Homo sapiens: one gene and its partners. The protein of the gene in region 3 purifies or fractionates together with the protein of the main gene of each other region. This does not show direct contact. Each region holds a gene or a part of one and is shown on either strand. Other genes may lie near its edges.

Region 1 (4,144 bases), on a different chromosome or scaffold from region 3:
AGCTAGGACTACACTACATGTGTCTGCCACCACACTCGGCTAATATTTTTATTTTTTGTAGAGACAAGGTCTGGCTGTGTTGCTCAGGCTGGTCTGAAACTCCTGGCTTCAAGCGATCGTCCCACCTTGGCCTCCCAAAGTGCTGGCATTACAGCTGTGAGCTACTGCACCTCGCCTAGCTTTAAAAAAAAATGTTTAGCCATTCTAATAGGTGTGTAGTGATGTTTCATTGTAGTTTAACTTGCATTTCCCAAATGACTTGTATTTACCTAAATGTTGAGCATTTTTCATGTACTTATTTGCCATCCATATATCTTTGGTAAAATGTTTATTCAAATCATTTGCCCATTTTTTTATTGGGTTATTTGTTTTCTTATTATTGAGTTTTTCAGAGCTCTTTATATGTCCTGGATACAAGTCCCCTGTTATATATATGTTTTGCAAATACTTTTTTCCCAGTTAATAACTTGCCTTCTCTTAAGAGTGTCTTTTGAAGAGCAAACATTTTCAATTTGAGTAAAAGTCCAATTTCCACTCACTTTTTCTTTTGTGGATTGTGTTTTTGGTTTCACATCTAGGAATTTTTTTTCTTTTTCTGAGACGGAGTCTTGCTGTGTCGCCAGGTTGGAGTACAGTGGCGCGATCTCGGTTCACTGCACTATATGTATATGTATGTATGTATGTATGTATATACACATACACCATATATATGTGTGTATATATATACATACATATACAAAACAATTGCTTACTAGATGCACAAATCAATGGAATAGAGAGTTCATAAACAGGCATATCTCTCTTTACATATATATATCTATATCGATCACACTATATATATGTGTGTGTGTATATATACACACATATATGTGTGTGTGTATATACACACATATGTGTGTGTGTATATACACACATGTGTGTGTGTACATACACACATGTGTGTGTGTATATATATACACACATATATGTGTATATGTGTATATATGTGTGTATATATGTGTATATATGTGTGTGTATATATATACACGCATATATATGCGTATATACATATATATGGACTCATATATGTGTATATACATATATATATATATATATATATATATATGGACTCACAGTGTGTCCTTGGACAAGTTATATAGTCTCTGTGTGCCTCAATTTTCTCAAGTATAAAACAGAGATAATTATAGTACACAACCCTTATGGGGTTTTTATGGATTGAGTGAATGATTATAGAGCACTTAGTATGGTGCCTGGTACATATATAGTGCTTCTTATACTCCTGAATCTTTTTACTTCTATTCAGACTGGATTTTCATTGGAATTAACAAATCCCATTATTTTATCTCACATTATCATTATGGAAATTTAACTGTGGAGATGAATTTTAATGAAAAATTTGTATTGCCGCTTAGTAAGATAATAAGATGTTCATTTTTGTTTTCTGTTAGGAAAATAATGCTTAACTTGGTTTAATAGCTGTAGGACATTAAATTGATATCAGACGAATTACAACTCTTGAAATTTTTCTTTGATTTTTTTTTTTTTTTTTGAGACAGAATTTGGCTCTTGTCTTCCACGCTGCAGTGCAGTGGTGCGATCTCGGCTCACTGCAACTCTGCCTCCTGGGTTCAAGCGATTCTCCTGCCTCAGCCTCCCAAGTAGCTGGAATTACAGGCGCCCACCACCATGCCCAGCTAAGTTTTGTATTTTTAGTAGAGACGGGGTTTCACCATGTTGGCCAGGCTGGTCTGGAACTCCTGACCTCAGGTGATCCACCCGCCTCGGCCTCCCAATGTGCTGGGATTACAGGCGTGAGCCACCACGCCTGGCCACTTTCCTTGATTTTTTAAAGTATATCCATTACCTTTTAAGGATTGTAGTAAGAAATAGTCTAGGCCAGACACGGTGGCGCATGCCTGTAATTCCAGCACTTTGGGAGGCTGAGGTGGGTGGATCGCTTGAGTCCAGGAGTTCGAGACCAGCCTGGACAACATGGCGAAACCCCATCTCTACAGAAAATACAAAAATTAGTTGTGCATGGTGGTGTGCACTTGTAGTCCCAGCTACTCAGGAGACTGAGGCGGGGAGGATTGCTTGAACGGTGGAGGTCGAGGCTGCAGTGAGCTGTGAGTGTGCCACTGCACTCCAACCTGGGCAACAGAGTGAGACCCTGTGTCAGAAAAAAAAAATACAGTCTAAACTAAACTCACTTCATAAGTGGCTCTTAGGAAAAAATAATTTAAAACATGACCTTTCCATGTTTGTGATTCTAGACACTTTATTTCAGAACTAGTAACCTGCAAAATTACGAAGGATTTCAGTTTCAGTTGTTTATTATTACTTTTTTTTTTTTAAAGTGTCAGGGTCTTGCTTTGTCACCCAGGCTGGAGTGCAGTGGCATGATCATGGCTCACTGCAGCCTTGAACTCCCAGGCACAAGCAGTCCTCCTGCCTCAGCCTTCTGAGTAGCTAGGACTACAGGCGCACACCACCATGCCCAGCTAAGGGTTTTTGTGTTTTTTTACCCCCCTTCCACCAACTCACTTCAAATAATCTGCTAAGTTTTAAAAAACTTTTTTAGAGCTAGGGGAGTGTCACTGTGTCACCCAGGCCAGTCTCAAACTCCTAGTCTCACTAGGCCACTGGCCCACTCTCAAGTAGCTGGGATTACAGATGTGAGCCACTGTGTCTAGCTCCTAATGCTTTTTGTTTTGAAAAACTTTCAGGAATTGTTGAGAAAGTACAGCAACATAAATCTTAAATTTCTCCTTGGAAGGCCGTGCTGACAATCCAACTAATTTTATACTACAGAACTATTTAGCTATAAAATCTTTAGCTATCAGATTAATTTCTCCCTATGAGCTAGGAAAAGTGGAGCGTCCAGAGAAAATACTTAGGGTAGTAAATTACATTTAACTCCTCAGCATTGGCAGCTGTTATGGACTGAATGTTTGTCAAATTCATATGTTGAAGCCCTACCCCCCTACACATGGCTGTATTTGGAGATGGGACCTCTAAGGAAGTAATTAAGGTTAAGTGAGGTCATAAAGGTAGAGTGCTGATCTGATAGGATTAGTGTCCTTATAAGAAGATTCAGTTAGCTTGCACTTGCTCCCTCCCTCTCCTTCACACAGAGGACAGGTCTGGTGATGACATAGCAAGAGGTTGGCTTTTGCAGTCTGAGCAGACTAAAACAGGCTGCCATAACAAAATACCACAGACTGGTGGCTTAAATAACAGAAGTTTATTTCTCACAGCTCTAGAGCCTGGGAAGTCCAAGATCAAGGTGCTAGCAGATTCAGTGTCTGGTGAGGGCTCTCTTCCTGGCTTACAGACAGCTGCCTTCTTGCTGTGTCCTCACATGGCCTTTCCTCTGTGATTCATCCTTCTGCCTTACCTCCTACAGCCATTGAATTACCAGTCTGCTGATTCTGTTTCCTCAGTATTTCTCAAATTCATCCCATCTTCTTCTTCCCTACTAATTACAGCTCTGGTTCCAGCCCTTTCTGTATGACTACAATAGTCTCTCCGATCAATCCATGTTGCATGTGTCCTTATCTCATCAGAGTAATTATCCTGACATGTAAATTTTGCTTATTTAAATCTTTCTGTGGTTCCCTCTTGTCTGTGGATAACTTCTAAGCTTTATATAATACGGTTTCTGCCTACCTCTGTAGCTTCATCTACTAGCATTCTGATAGCATGTGTAACACCAAACTACTTTCAGTTTTCCTCCTACTCCCTGAAGAATTTTACTTTGTTCCGTCTGTTACTTTTGCCTGGCATGGGAAGGGAGGGTCCTTTATTCCTACCCCTTTTACCTAATGAGCTCTAGCTTATCCATTCTCATGTTTTGCAGAACTTCCGCCCCACTTCTCTTCCCCGCCCCAGATGTCCCTTCTCTGTCCCCTCCAAAATATTCTCAGCATCTCTCATTACATGGTCAAGTTGTTTTTAGTTTAGATGAATGTTTACTTTTATGGAAAGAGCTGGTCCTATTCATTTTAGTGCCTAAAACAATGTCTGGCTCATACTGGGTATTCAAATATTGGTAGAGTGACTGAACATCCAGAAAGTTAAGGGGATTTTTTCAAGATCCGGTTGCTTATAGGGGACAAAATTGGGACTGGAAAATGAGTACTTC
Region 2 (4,144 bases), on a different chromosome or scaffold from region 3:
GCATTGCACTCTAGTCTGGACAAGAGTGAGACCTTGTCTCAAAAAAAAAAAAAAAAAGAGAGAGATACAAAAAAGGCCAGCCACACCTGTAATTCCAGCACTTTGGGAGGCTGGAGGAGACAGATTTTTTGAGCCCAGGAGTTTGAGATCAGCCTGGGCAACATGGTGAAACGCTGTCTCCACAAAAAATACAAAAATTAGCTGGGTGTGGTGGTGCGTGCCTGTATCCCAGCTATTTGGGAGGTTGAGGTGGGAGGATCACCTGAGCCCAGCAGGTGGAGGCAGCCGTGAGCTGTGATTACATCACTGCACCCCAGCTTGGGCGAGAGGGCAAGACTCTGTCTCAAAAACAGATAAACAAAAAGAGAATAACAACAAAAAAACTTAAGAAAAGTCAAAATTGGATTGAATGTGAAGGAGGGCAGTGTCAAGGATGACCAGCTTCCTACTTGTACAATCAAATGGAGGATAATTACCTCTTAAATCTTTATTTGCCTAGCATTTTAAGATTTTCATTTTCAGACTTTTTGTTATTTATAAAGCAGAGATATTGAGTTATTTAAGAAAAAACTTCTCACAAACTGTTTATAGCATATATTAAAGGGAAATCTTTTTTCCACTTGCACATTTTTTCTGGCTAAATGAATGATTTGCCTCTTAGATTCTAGATAAGACAGTTCTGTGATTTTTAAAGTGTAAGTTTCCACCTTCAGCACAGTTTATTTTAGAATTACCTAGAGTGGAGATGGCTTGTCTTTCTGCCTGCTAATCTAGAGACAGGTAAAGATAAGTGAGATTAAGCAGGCAGTTGCTGATGAGTTGTACCTCATATTGTCCAGGAAGACACCAAGGTGTTATGGACATGATTCGCCCATATAGCTCAGTAAGTGCAGCAACTTACTGCACTAGAAACTTTCCCATAAGTGAAATTATGCAAATATGTTCTTTGACTTTGTAAAATAATAGATTACTTCCAGCAAAACAAGAGGACTCTCAGGGGAGGTGGTAGGACACTAAACAGGAAGTGGGATTATGGGTGGAGCTGTTCACTGAGGAGGGCTGGAGAACAACGTGGAGAGAGATGTCCACAGGAGAATGGCATTCCTATTTGCTTTCCTCTGGTACCAGATAATTTTGCTTTAAGACAACTGATATGTTAGAGAGGGAATTGGGTTGGAAATGTAGCATTTTCCCGAAACATACAGTAGTCCTTTAAAATAAAAACTTCCTGATCCTTTTAAACTACCCTTCAATATTTTATTATTCTAAATGGAAATAACTTTGTTGTTTTCACCTTTCCCAACGTCTTTAATGTTACAAGGAAAACTGTCTCCTTTTAACATTTGCATATATTCAAATTAATAACTATGTTAGTTTCTCAAGGCCACTGTAAAAATTACCACAAACTTCGTGGCCTAAAACAATTAACATGTGCTGTCTCATTGTTTGGCGGTTAGAATTCCAAAGGCACTATCACTAGGCTGAAATCAAGGTGTCGGCAGCGCTGTCCTTCCTCTGGAGGCTCTAAGAAAGAAATCGTCTTTCCCTCTTTCAGTTCCTGGTGGCTGCCGACATTCTTGGGCTGCATCACTCCAATCTCTCTGTCTCCGTGGTTATGCTGCTTTCTGTTCTGTTCGCATCAAACCTCCCTCTGCCTCTCTCTTATAAGGACACTTGTGATTTCATTTAGCACCTACCTAGATAATCCAGGATAATCTCTCTCTCTCTCAAGACCTTTAACTTAATCACACCTGCAAAAGGTAACATTTCCAGGTTCCAGGAATTAGGATATATTTAGGGGCCATCATTCAGTTTACTATAATAACTATTTTTTATATCCACTCAAGAAGAGTCTCAGATGTCCATGAATGAAATAAAGCAATAAATATCAGATTAACCCTACTGTTTGCAAAGTCCTTTAAATGAAAATGTCATTATACTTTACATTATACTTTATACTTACATTATAAGTATACATTCTACATTATACATTATACTTTACATTATACTTTATACCTTACATTATACTTTGCTCACAGAACATTTATATAATTTTATCTTGTTTCAGGAAGTACATAAGGCAGTTTATATGGATACTTGAAATGCAACAAGATAATGTAAATTAAAAATAGATGAAAGAAAATAAATGAGGATAAGAAGAGAAAAGGAAGCAAGGGATGAAGCTCTAGAAAAATGAATATAATCACATTACTTTTATTGATATTGCATGGAAGATAAATTCTTACTTTATAAAGGAAGTATGGCATTTTGTTATAAAATGATAAAAGAACCATTCTTCCTTCTGTCAAACAGCAGCAGGTCCAGTCTCTTATACAGGCATACCTTGGAGATAGTGTGGGTTCAGTTCCAGATCACCCCAAAGAAGTGAATATTGGAATACAGCGAGTCACACACGTTTTTTGGTTTTCTAGTGCATATAAAAGTTATGTTTATACTATACTGTAGTTTGTTAAATGTGCAATAGCATGCTATCTAAGAAAAGGTACATACCTTTATGTAAAAGATACTTTTTGCTAAAAATTGCTAACGATCATTTGTGCCTTCACTGAGTGGTAAGTGTTTTACTGGTGGAGGGTCTTGCCTGGATGTCGATGGCTGCTGACTGATCCGAATGGTGGTTGCCGAAGGCTGAGGTGGCTGTGGCAATTTATTAAAGTAAGACAACGAGGAAGTTTGTCACATAGATTGACTATTCCTTTCAAGAAGATTTATATATAGCCTGTAATGCTGTTTGGTAGCATTTTGTCTGCGATAGAACTTCTTTCAATATTGGAATCAATCCTCTCAAGCCCTGCCACTGCTTTATCGACTAAATTTATATAATTCTAAATCCTTTGTTGTCATTTACACAGTGCTGTGAACATCTTCACTGGGAGTAGATTCCATCTCAAGAAACCACTCTTTGCTCATCCATAAGAAGCAACACCTCATTCATTCAAGTTTTAGCATGAGATTAAAATGTCATAAATTTAGTTACATCTTCAGGCTCCACTTCTGCTTCTTTTGCTGTTTCTACCACATCTGCACTTCATTTCCTCCACTGACATCTTGGACACCTCAAACTCATTCAGGAGGGTTGGAGTCCACATCTTCCAAACTCCTGTTAATGTTGATATTTTGACCACCTCCCATGAATTACGAATGTTCTTAATGACATCTAGAATGGTGAATCCTTTCCAGAATGTTTTCAATTTATTTTGCCTAGTTCCAACAAAAAAATCACTATCTATGGCAGCTGTTTTCTTATGAGATGTATTTCTTAAATAATACGACTTGAAAGTCAAAATTACTCCCTGATCCACAAGCTGAAGAGTGGATGTTGTGTTAGTAGACGTGTGAGCAATGTTAATCTCTTTGTACATCTCCATCAGAACTCTTGGGTGACCACGTATGATATTGTTTGGCTGTGTCCCCACCCAAATCTCATCTTGAATTGTAGCTCCCATAATTCCCACATGTCATGGGAGGGAGCCATTGGGAGGTAATTGAATCATAGGTGCCGGTCTTTCCCATGCTGTTCTCATGATAGCAAGTCTCACGAGACATGATGGTTTTATAAAGGGGAGTTCCCCTGAGTATGTCCTCTTGCCTGCCACCATGTGAGATGTGCCTTCCATCATGATTGTGAGGCCTCCCCAGCCATGCGGAACTGTGAGTCCATTAAACCTCTTTTTCTTTACAAATTTCCTAGTCTCGGGTATGTCTTTATTAGCAGCATAAGAATGGACTAATACAGGTGTGTTATCAACCAGAAGTAATATTCAGAAAGAAATATTTTTTTTCTGAGCAGTAGTTCTTAATAGTGGACTTAAAATATTCAAGAAACCATATTGTAAACAGTTACCCAGGCTTTGTTATTCTATTTATAGAGCACATTTTCTAAATCTATAGATTTAGAATAATTATTTATTTATTTGTATTTGCATTTTCATAGATGAAAGGTCTTGCTCGGTTGCCTAGGCTGAAGTACAGTGGGATCATCATAGCTCACTGACACCTTGAACTCCTGGGCTCAAGCAATCCTCCTGCCTTGGCCTCACAAAGTGTTGGGATTACAGTCATGAGCCACTGCATCTGGTTACAGTTAGAATAATTCATAAGGGCCTTAGAACTTTTTGAATAG
Region 3 (4,144 bases):
GGTCTTGTTCTGTCATCCAGGCTGGAGCGCAGCAGCACGATTGTAGCTCACTGCAGTCTCCAATTCCTGGGCTCAAGCAATCTTCATGCTTCAGCTTTCCTAATAGCTAGGACTGCAGGCATGTGTCACCAGGCCATGCTTTTATAATTTTTTGTAGAAATGGGATCTATGTTGCGCAGGCTGTCTTGCACTCCTGGCCTCAAGTGATCCTCCTGCCTGGGCCTCCCAAACCACTGGAATTGCAAGTGTGAGCCACGACACCTGGCCTATCTGCTGGTTAAGTTCTTTAAACAGACCAGGTAAAATGGAGGTTTTAATATCTAGATTCTCATGTATATCTGTGTAGTTTTATTAATGTCCTCTCCTCTTGTTCCTCATTGCTCTTTCATAGTAGTAACAAGAGAAAGCTCACTTCAGTCATTTCAAATCCAAATGTAACAATGCAGAATTAAAAAATGGAAACAAGCTCTTGGAATTAATCATTTATCACAAAATGAACAATTTCAATTCTTAAACATACAATCACTTTTTTTCATACTAACTCAAAATGAGTAAACAGAATTTTATTCAAACTTTACAAATATCATTTACATTTAGCCTGAGATTAAACATGAGAAAGTTCAACCTGAAGTTAGACTTCGTTGCCCAGTTAAGCATCTGAAAATAAAGCTGAGAATGAACATACATCATCAAACAAAGCATTCCAATGAAGTCTGGCAATGAATTGTGACACAAACTGAACTTTAATTTGCTCTGGTCCACATGATCTTCAGAGCCTAAAAGTTCCTGTTTTTTAATAATGATGGAAAAATATCTGCAAATGATAAATGCATGAAGGTATGACCAGATGCAAAATTTTAGTTCAACATTTCTATAGCAGCTGCTTTAGGTGACCATTAAAAAACAACTCCCCAATCCTTACTGTTCAACATGTACTTGAAAACATGCAGCAGCATGGTACAGTTTATTAAATTTATAAATATCAGTACCTGTAATAAAATATAAAATACTGACTATTCCTTTTTCAAATATTAAGTCTCTGAATGCTTCATTCATCCTTTGGTTTCAAACCCATACAATGCACTCATATTACATTGTAGATTTCGAATGGAGACAGAACACTGTACATCTGTTGGGGAAGGTGGGGTGCTGTAGGAATACCAAAGCACTACATCATAGAAAGTAAACGTTGAAGCAAAAATACTTTCTGAATATATACTGTACATTATGTAAACACACATTCAGAATAAGAATCAACACAGGCCAAAATATTGTTTTCTAGGAAACCAGAATCTTCTTTCTTTTAAATCACACACTGAAGATGCTTTTTTGTTAAGAAAAAGAATGAAGTCTGTTCCTGTATTTGCTTATGTGCTTAGATATCTTGGAAATGAGTAATTATTACATTCATTTGCTAACGGTTTATCCTCTGCTTAGTTGGCTGGCTGTTGCAAACACGGAATACAGAACTATTTCAGTCCCTGTTTTTCATTTAATACTAGTTAAGTAATATATAATTAATTCATCTTTATTAATCCATTATTAGTAATATAAATAGATTAAGTGAAGCAGTGAATTTCAAAATTTGTGCAGGGGAAACTAGTTGATAATTTGTTTCCAATAAGGCTGGTAGCAATTAATTACTACAAAGTTTGTCCAAGCTAGTATTGAACCCCTGATTTAGCAGGCTGAATCAAAGTGTATAGTTAGGTACTTCTAATTCCTCTATTACTGTGCAAATCTAGAATTTCCTATGTAAAAGACAGTGCTGGCAGCATCAAAGCCCTGTAATAGTATGAAATAGTGATTAGGATTTGAAATGAAGAGATATTATATGAAGACATGTGAATGTCTTAATGATGGTATCATAGCAACGGCCTCAGAATTCCCTTACTGAAACAGAAACTAAGACAAATCATTATTCAATAATCTTCTGAGCCAAAAGCCTAAGTTGGAAGCAAGTGATAAAAACACAAAACCAAAGATGCATTTTCTATGACCATATGCAAGAATTTTAAGCTTTATATCAACATTCTGTACCAGCACCAGCCCCTCTGAAAGGAAAAAGTGTAGTCATGACTGTCCATCTCTTTTCAAAGCTTCCAGTCTTTGAAGCAGTGCGTTTCCAAATGCTTCTCGGTAGGCGGGGCTGAGTGTATCCAACAAGGAGTAGACTGTTTCATGGTAGGGAGTCTGTAAATGATCATCTACCTGGTCAAAAGCATAGCCTACCACCTACAAGAGAAATGCAACAGTGAATTCATTAGTTTTCATGTTGGTACAGAAAGCAAAATCCAAGTGTTTATGTGAGTAATCATCCTTTCAAAAAAATAAATTATTTCTTTTCCTAGCCACTAGACCACCAGATACATGGGTAACTGAGTGAAACTATTTCTCAAAGTCAGAGTATACACATTTTAAATACAACCTTTAATACTTCAGCAACTTATAATGTATAACACAGAAACACCACTAAAATGCTCCCTATAGAATTTTCAACATTTAAAAGGTTTTACTTAGAAGCTCAAGGAAATGCAGAGAAAGAATTTGAAAAGCTACACAAAAATGGTATTTCATTTTCATATTCTAAAACATGCATCTATTATTTACCCCATTTAATTCCACATATATTGAGGGTCCACTATATTAAGTACTATAATAGGTAATATATCATTAGTTCATATTTTTTTCATTATTTTTCACTTCTTTTATAAACAATTCTAAAAATTATTCCTAATAATTTAGTTTTAATAATTAGTTGTTAATTTTAATAATTGTTTATTAATAATTGGTTTAATAGTTTATTAGTTTTAATAACTGTTTAGCTTTATTATTAGTAATCTGAAAGGCCACTTTCACCTAATATATTTCTTACCTGACAGGGAATAAATGCTCAATTCTGTGAGATAAAAGAACATGTTAATGTGTTTTTTTTTTCTTGGTAGGGGTACACTATTTCTGGAGGTATTTGCAATACCAGGTCGATGTGTGAAGTTAATGGAGCAAGAGCCTATTCTATCTCCCTGCTCCAAAAATCCATTTAATATATTGTCCTTAGATAGAGGACATAACAGATATTAAACTGATAAGAAAAGATACTCCAATTGATCTTAGGCAAAAGGCTGACAGGCCATGTGTTTTTCTTTTTTTTTTTTTCCTGTGAACACAGCTACAACTTTTCTTTTTGACAAGATTATAAGGTATATCATGGTTCACCAGCACAATATAGGGCAAAATTAATTTAGTTTTTGCTGACTTAAGTGTGTACATTCCCTATATAAATCCTAAATTTTTATGACATCTATTTAAGCCATAGGAGGTGAAAGTTTGTGTTAGAAATAGAAGCTGAGTTTTTTTTTTTTTAAATGAAAAGCAGAGGCAGACACCTAAGGAAAATGAATCACACCTCTTCAGATCCATGCTCTATTACTGCACTCTCTACAGTGGAGTACAGTTCAGTTTGCCTTCTTCCTCTTATCTCTGCTAGACTGTGATCTTCCTGGTGGACAGGGATCATGTCTTATGCATGGTTTGATTTTCAATTGCTGACACAGGATAGTTGCTCAATAAATGTTAACTGAATCAGACTGAAAAACAAACAAATATTTGAGCACCTACTACATGTCAGGTTTTACATATGGTTCAGATCTTTCTGTATCATACAGTCATATAATCATTCCCCAAATCGTTTTAAGTTTTTTTTAAATCTCCAAGTTATAGATTAAGAAGCAGAAACTCTCTCAGGGGTAGACGGACTCACTCAAGATCACTTAAATTCACATTTAAGACTGCTGACTCTCTGATCAGAACTCCTTCTACCTCTCCACAGTCAACTTAGAATTAACCAACACAAGACAGAATTATCTTACTAATTCTGTCATTTATCTCTACTTCTGATTTAAGATTCACCTCTAAATACTCTGAGCTTTTAGTACAAATTTAAGGATGTGAAAAGAAGTGCACAAAAATTAGTTAATTCAGGTACTATGCTTAAAGCTAAGCAGCTATCTTTGCAGCAGCTGTGAGGGAACTGAGGGTAGTACAGATGCTGGCCTTGCAATTTGCTCCATCAAGGAATATACAGTATACACGACTCATCTTCAGCAAAGTGAATCCAGCGAATTAAAGAGATGTTTATGTACTT
Region 4 (4,144 bases), on a different chromosome or scaffold from region 3:
GTGCTTTGCTCTATGGAAGTTTTTTCCATGCCCAAGGCTCCAAGCCTCCATGTCAAGCCAACTGGCTATCATGACGGAAGAAAGGGAACTGCGTAATTGTGACCTGGAGTATTTGTGGAATCAATCCTACATTCATGTTTCCCTGGTGCAAGGCAATTGGAACTCACCAGGGTGCTCTTTTGACTGTCAGCATATGCCAGGAAAGGAAGCAACAACCTGTTGTTAGATTTTTAAGCAATCAATTATCAGTTTTACCAGCTTATATTTAGAAATCTACAAAATAAAAATAGATATTCATGGTGTAGGAAGGACTGATACAGATTCTGACCTACCAAGCATACTTCCTAGGAATCTCATTCTTTTAGCATAAGTTATAAATACCAGGGATGGTTCTATCTAAATCAGGATGTCCAGTCTTTTGGCTTCCCTGGGCCACATTAGAAGAAGAATTGTCTTGGGCCACACATAAAATACACTAACACTAACAATAGCTGATGAGCTAAAAAAAAAAAAAAGGTGCAAAAAAATCTAGTGTTTTAAGAAAGTTTACAAATTTGTGTTGGGCCACATTCAAAGCTGTCCTGGGCCGCATGTGACCCACCGGCCGTGGGTTGGACAAACTTGAATTCTAAACATTAAAATTTGGTCAGATAATAGACTGTATGAAAATATATCACGTACTTAAAGTGCGGCGTCCGTAACATTTGGTTTTAAAGGCAACTTGAGTCATTACTAATTAATTATATCTCACATTATTATAATGACATATTTCAGAAACACAGTATTGCAACGCTCTGTAAAATGTGCAAATCATTTTAAGTAAAAAAATTAGGAACTTAAACTTATGGAAAATTTTGAATATATTCAAGAGAACAGACTTAGTATACTAAACTATCAGGTACTCATCCCTCAGTTTCAACATCTGCCAATTCATGGTCAATCTTATCTCGTTTATTCCCTATTTCTCTCCTCTCCTATATTATTTTGAAGCAAATCCTAGACATTACTTCATGGATAAATATTTCAATATATATTTCTAAAAGACAAAGACACTTTTAAAATAAAACCACAATACCTTATCATACCTTAAAAAAATTACAACAATCTGTAACATCATCAAAATATCTAGTCAATGTTGACATTTCCACTTGCCTCATAAATGCCATTTTTTTCATAGTTTATTTGAATTAGGATCTAAAATAAGGTCCACATGTTGTCTTTATTTGTTTGTTTTTTTTTTTTTTTAGATGGAGTCTTGCTCTGTCGCCCAGGCTGGAGTGCAGTGACACAATCTTGGCTCATGGCAACCTCCGCCTCCTGGGCTCAAGTGATTCTCCTACCTCCACTTCCTGAGTAGCTGGGATTACAGGTGCACACCACCACACCTGGTTAATTTTTGTGTTTTTAGTAGAGACGGGGTTTCACCATGTTGGCTAGGCTGGTATCAAACTCCTGACCTCAAGTGATCCGCCTGCCTCTGCCTCCCAAAGTGCTGGGATTACAGGCATGAGCCACCACGTCCAGCCACATATTGTCATTTTTTGATGTCTACAATGGTAACTTTTCTTTGTTAATTTAATAATCTGTTGCTTTCTCTGATTTCATTTATATGATTAATTATTTTGCAACTCTGGTGCACAGAATTAGGTAGGTTATCTTTGGTCATGATATACTCATATGGGTCTGTGCATACCCATTTTTAAATTTATTTTTGTGTGTGGTTGTTTGTTTTGAAATTGTAACAAGCCTCATGAACTCTCAATCTAACAGGAAAACTAAAACTTTGACGTGACATTTTCTGTACAGTTCTTCCCTATCCCACCTCGGTTTTCGCCCAGTGTGGTAACCACAGTCTTGAATCTTGTGTTCATTGTTGTTCTGCTTTTCTTTTTATGTAGTTTCCCTTCATCCAAATGTATCCCTTACAAAATTAAATTCTTCATTTTACTTTTTAACTTCCTTTAAAGTTTATCATGTTATACTTAAATTTCTAGTACTTCTTTTTGGCCTTGTATCTCTAAGAGTTACCCATATTGGATGTCATTGTGTGAATATACAAATTCATTCATCTACTCTCCTGTTTATAGGTATTTGGGTTGTTTCATTTGTTTCCAGGGTTTTGCAATTGTGAAAGGTGCTTTTCCCTATGATTTTAATTTTTAAAATATGTATTTCAACTTGTTTTTCATCAAGAAGAGCCTTCTGGAAATGTCACTCAGTGTACAGTGGGTATGATAACTATGCCTGTTATCCAGAGGGCACTCTACTAGCTGGTCTTGAATAAGTTATCTATAGTGCAACCAGTAGGAGCTTACTGATACAATATTTGAGGATTTTGCTGAGTATTTTAGCAAAAAGGGTAAAATATAACTCAGTTATCCCAGCAAGGAAATTCAGAGACTTTTTTCCTTTTAACTTAAAAGGCACGGGGGCTGGGCTTAGTGGCTCACGGCTATAATCCCAGCACTTTGGGAGGCCGAGGTGGGCGGATCAGGAGTTCGAAACCAGCCTGGCCAACATGGCAAAACCCTGTCTTTACTAAAAATACAAAAATTAGCTGGGCATAGTGGCATGTGTCTGTAATCCCAGCTACTCAGGGGCTGAGGGAGGAGAATCACTTGAACCTAAGAGGCAGAGGTTGCAGTGAGCCAAGATCACGCCACTGCACTCCAGCCTGGGGAACAGAGCAAGACTCTGTCTCTAAATACATAAATAAATAAATAAATAAATAAATAAAGGAATGGGTAAGTTGACTTGGAATTACTACACATTTTGATCTTATTTTGAGTTATTATTTGATATATTTGTGGAAAAGTAATTGCTTATAAACATGTATACCAATAAAAATTATGCCAATTAAAACTTCAATTGTAACCATTTTTGTTTTATTGTTTAGGAGACAAATGACCTGAAGCGTGCTGGACTCATGCTTCAAGAAGCAGATAAACTGGGCTGCAAACAGTTTGTTACTCCTGCAGATGTGGTTTCAGGCAATCCTAAACTTAATTTAGCTTTTGTAGCTAATTTGTTTAACACATACCCGTGCCTGCACAAGCCGAATAATAATGACATCGATATGAATTTACTGGAAGGTGCGTTCTTTCTGCCTTTAATTGACTTGCTATATTTATCTTCTTATGGTATTGTCTTACTTCACTGTCAGAGATAGGGGATTGTGGTGGGAAATGCAATTTAGTGTGTGTAGGTATGTGTATCTATTGAAAAATTAAAATTATGGAAGGTGGTTGCTGGTTTTGGTTAAAAGAGAATGCTGGGGTAAATCTTTTATTTCTCCATAAGAGGTTAGTGAAAACTATCATACATTTAAAATATTCTCATAAATGATCACATAACAGCTCTACCACCAACATGGACAATGAATTATCTATTAGAATAAAATAATTATTTGTAGGTGTTTTTCTCCTTTGAAAGGTCCAGTTTGACTCTAGTATTGTTCTCTTTTTAAGGTTTTTAGTGTACATGAAAAAAATTACAGTGTTCGTTATTTGTCTTTTGTGTGGTCTATCGTTATCTGTCTCATAATATATAATACTTTCCTGTTTTGCTTCATGAAATGCAGATTTGACCCCTCCTAATGTAGGTACTGTATTTAGTACTTTTCTATACTCTATAAATATATTCATTCTGAATGTTCTTTTTATTAGTACCATTTATTCTTTCCATCTGGGTTGATATTTTACTTTTTGCATTGTTCATGCTGTGTTATTTCTCTCTTAATATGCCCATAGAATGAAACACAAATAAAACTTAATTAGAATAGCAGAACAAAGCTTTGATTTTGTAAAATTTCTACCTAATTTGCCTTCTATAATGATGGGATATTGTAGTTGTAAACACATTAGAACTCAATTTTGAGAACTGGAATTCATGATTTGATGTAAAATCTTTATCCTTCTCCTGTGACAAAATGTCAAGTAATCTTTGAAAGGATTCATTTAGGTTCTATAACATATTATTTTGTATCAATTAGCTATGTTATATTTACTGAACCTCATTGAAGCTTACAGTATATGAATCATAATAACAAAACATTCTCAATACCCAGTTCTTACTCATTTGTTTCCCAGCCTTTCTTTTTTTCCCACTCTCATACATACCAACACCCACATTAGTATCAGAACTT

Evidence for each region.
Region 1: the proteins of GSKIP (region 3) and RP2 purify together in Homo sapiens (affinity purification with mass spectrometry; one large-scale study listed by BioGRID and IntAct). This does not show direct contact.
Region 2: the proteins of GSKIP (region 3) and TPD52L1 purify together in Homo sapiens (affinity purification with mass spectrometry; one large-scale study listed by BioGRID and IntAct). This does not show direct contact.
Region 4: the proteins of GSKIP (region 3) and PLS1 purify together in Homo sapiens (affinity purification with mass spectrometry; one large-scale study listed by BioGRID and IntAct). This does not show direct contact.

The regions. Positions count from the first base shown.
Region 1 is NC_000023.11:46,846,853-46,850,996, forward strand, and holds part of RP2 (protein XRP2), read left to right. Parts: intron 1-4,144. UniProt on the Homo sapiens protein: Acts as a GTPase-activating protein (GAP) involved in trafficking between the Golgi and the ciliary membrane.
Region 2 is NC_000006.12:125,156,424-125,160,567, forward strand, and holds part of TPD52L1 (tumor protein D53), read left to right. Parts: intron 1-4,144.
Region 3 is NC_000014.9:96,383,614-96,387,757, reverse strand, and holds the end of GSKIP (GSK3B-interacting protein), read right to left. Parts: intron 3,135-4,144; exon of another isoform or gene 2,946-3,134; intron 2,236-2,945; coding exon 2,074-2,235; 3' UTR 470-2,073; downstream 1-469. UniProt on the Homo sapiens protein: A-kinase anchoring protein for GSK3B and PKA that regulates or facilitates their kinase activity towards their targets.
Region 4 is NC_000003.12:142,686,722-142,690,865, forward strand, and holds part of PLS1 (plastin-1), read left to right. Parts: intron 1-2,896; coding exon 2,897-3,092; intron 3,093-4,144. UniProt on the Homo sapiens protein: Actin-bundling protein. In the inner ear, it is required for stereocilia formation. Mediates liquid packing of actin filaments that is necessary for stereocilia to grow to their proper dimensions.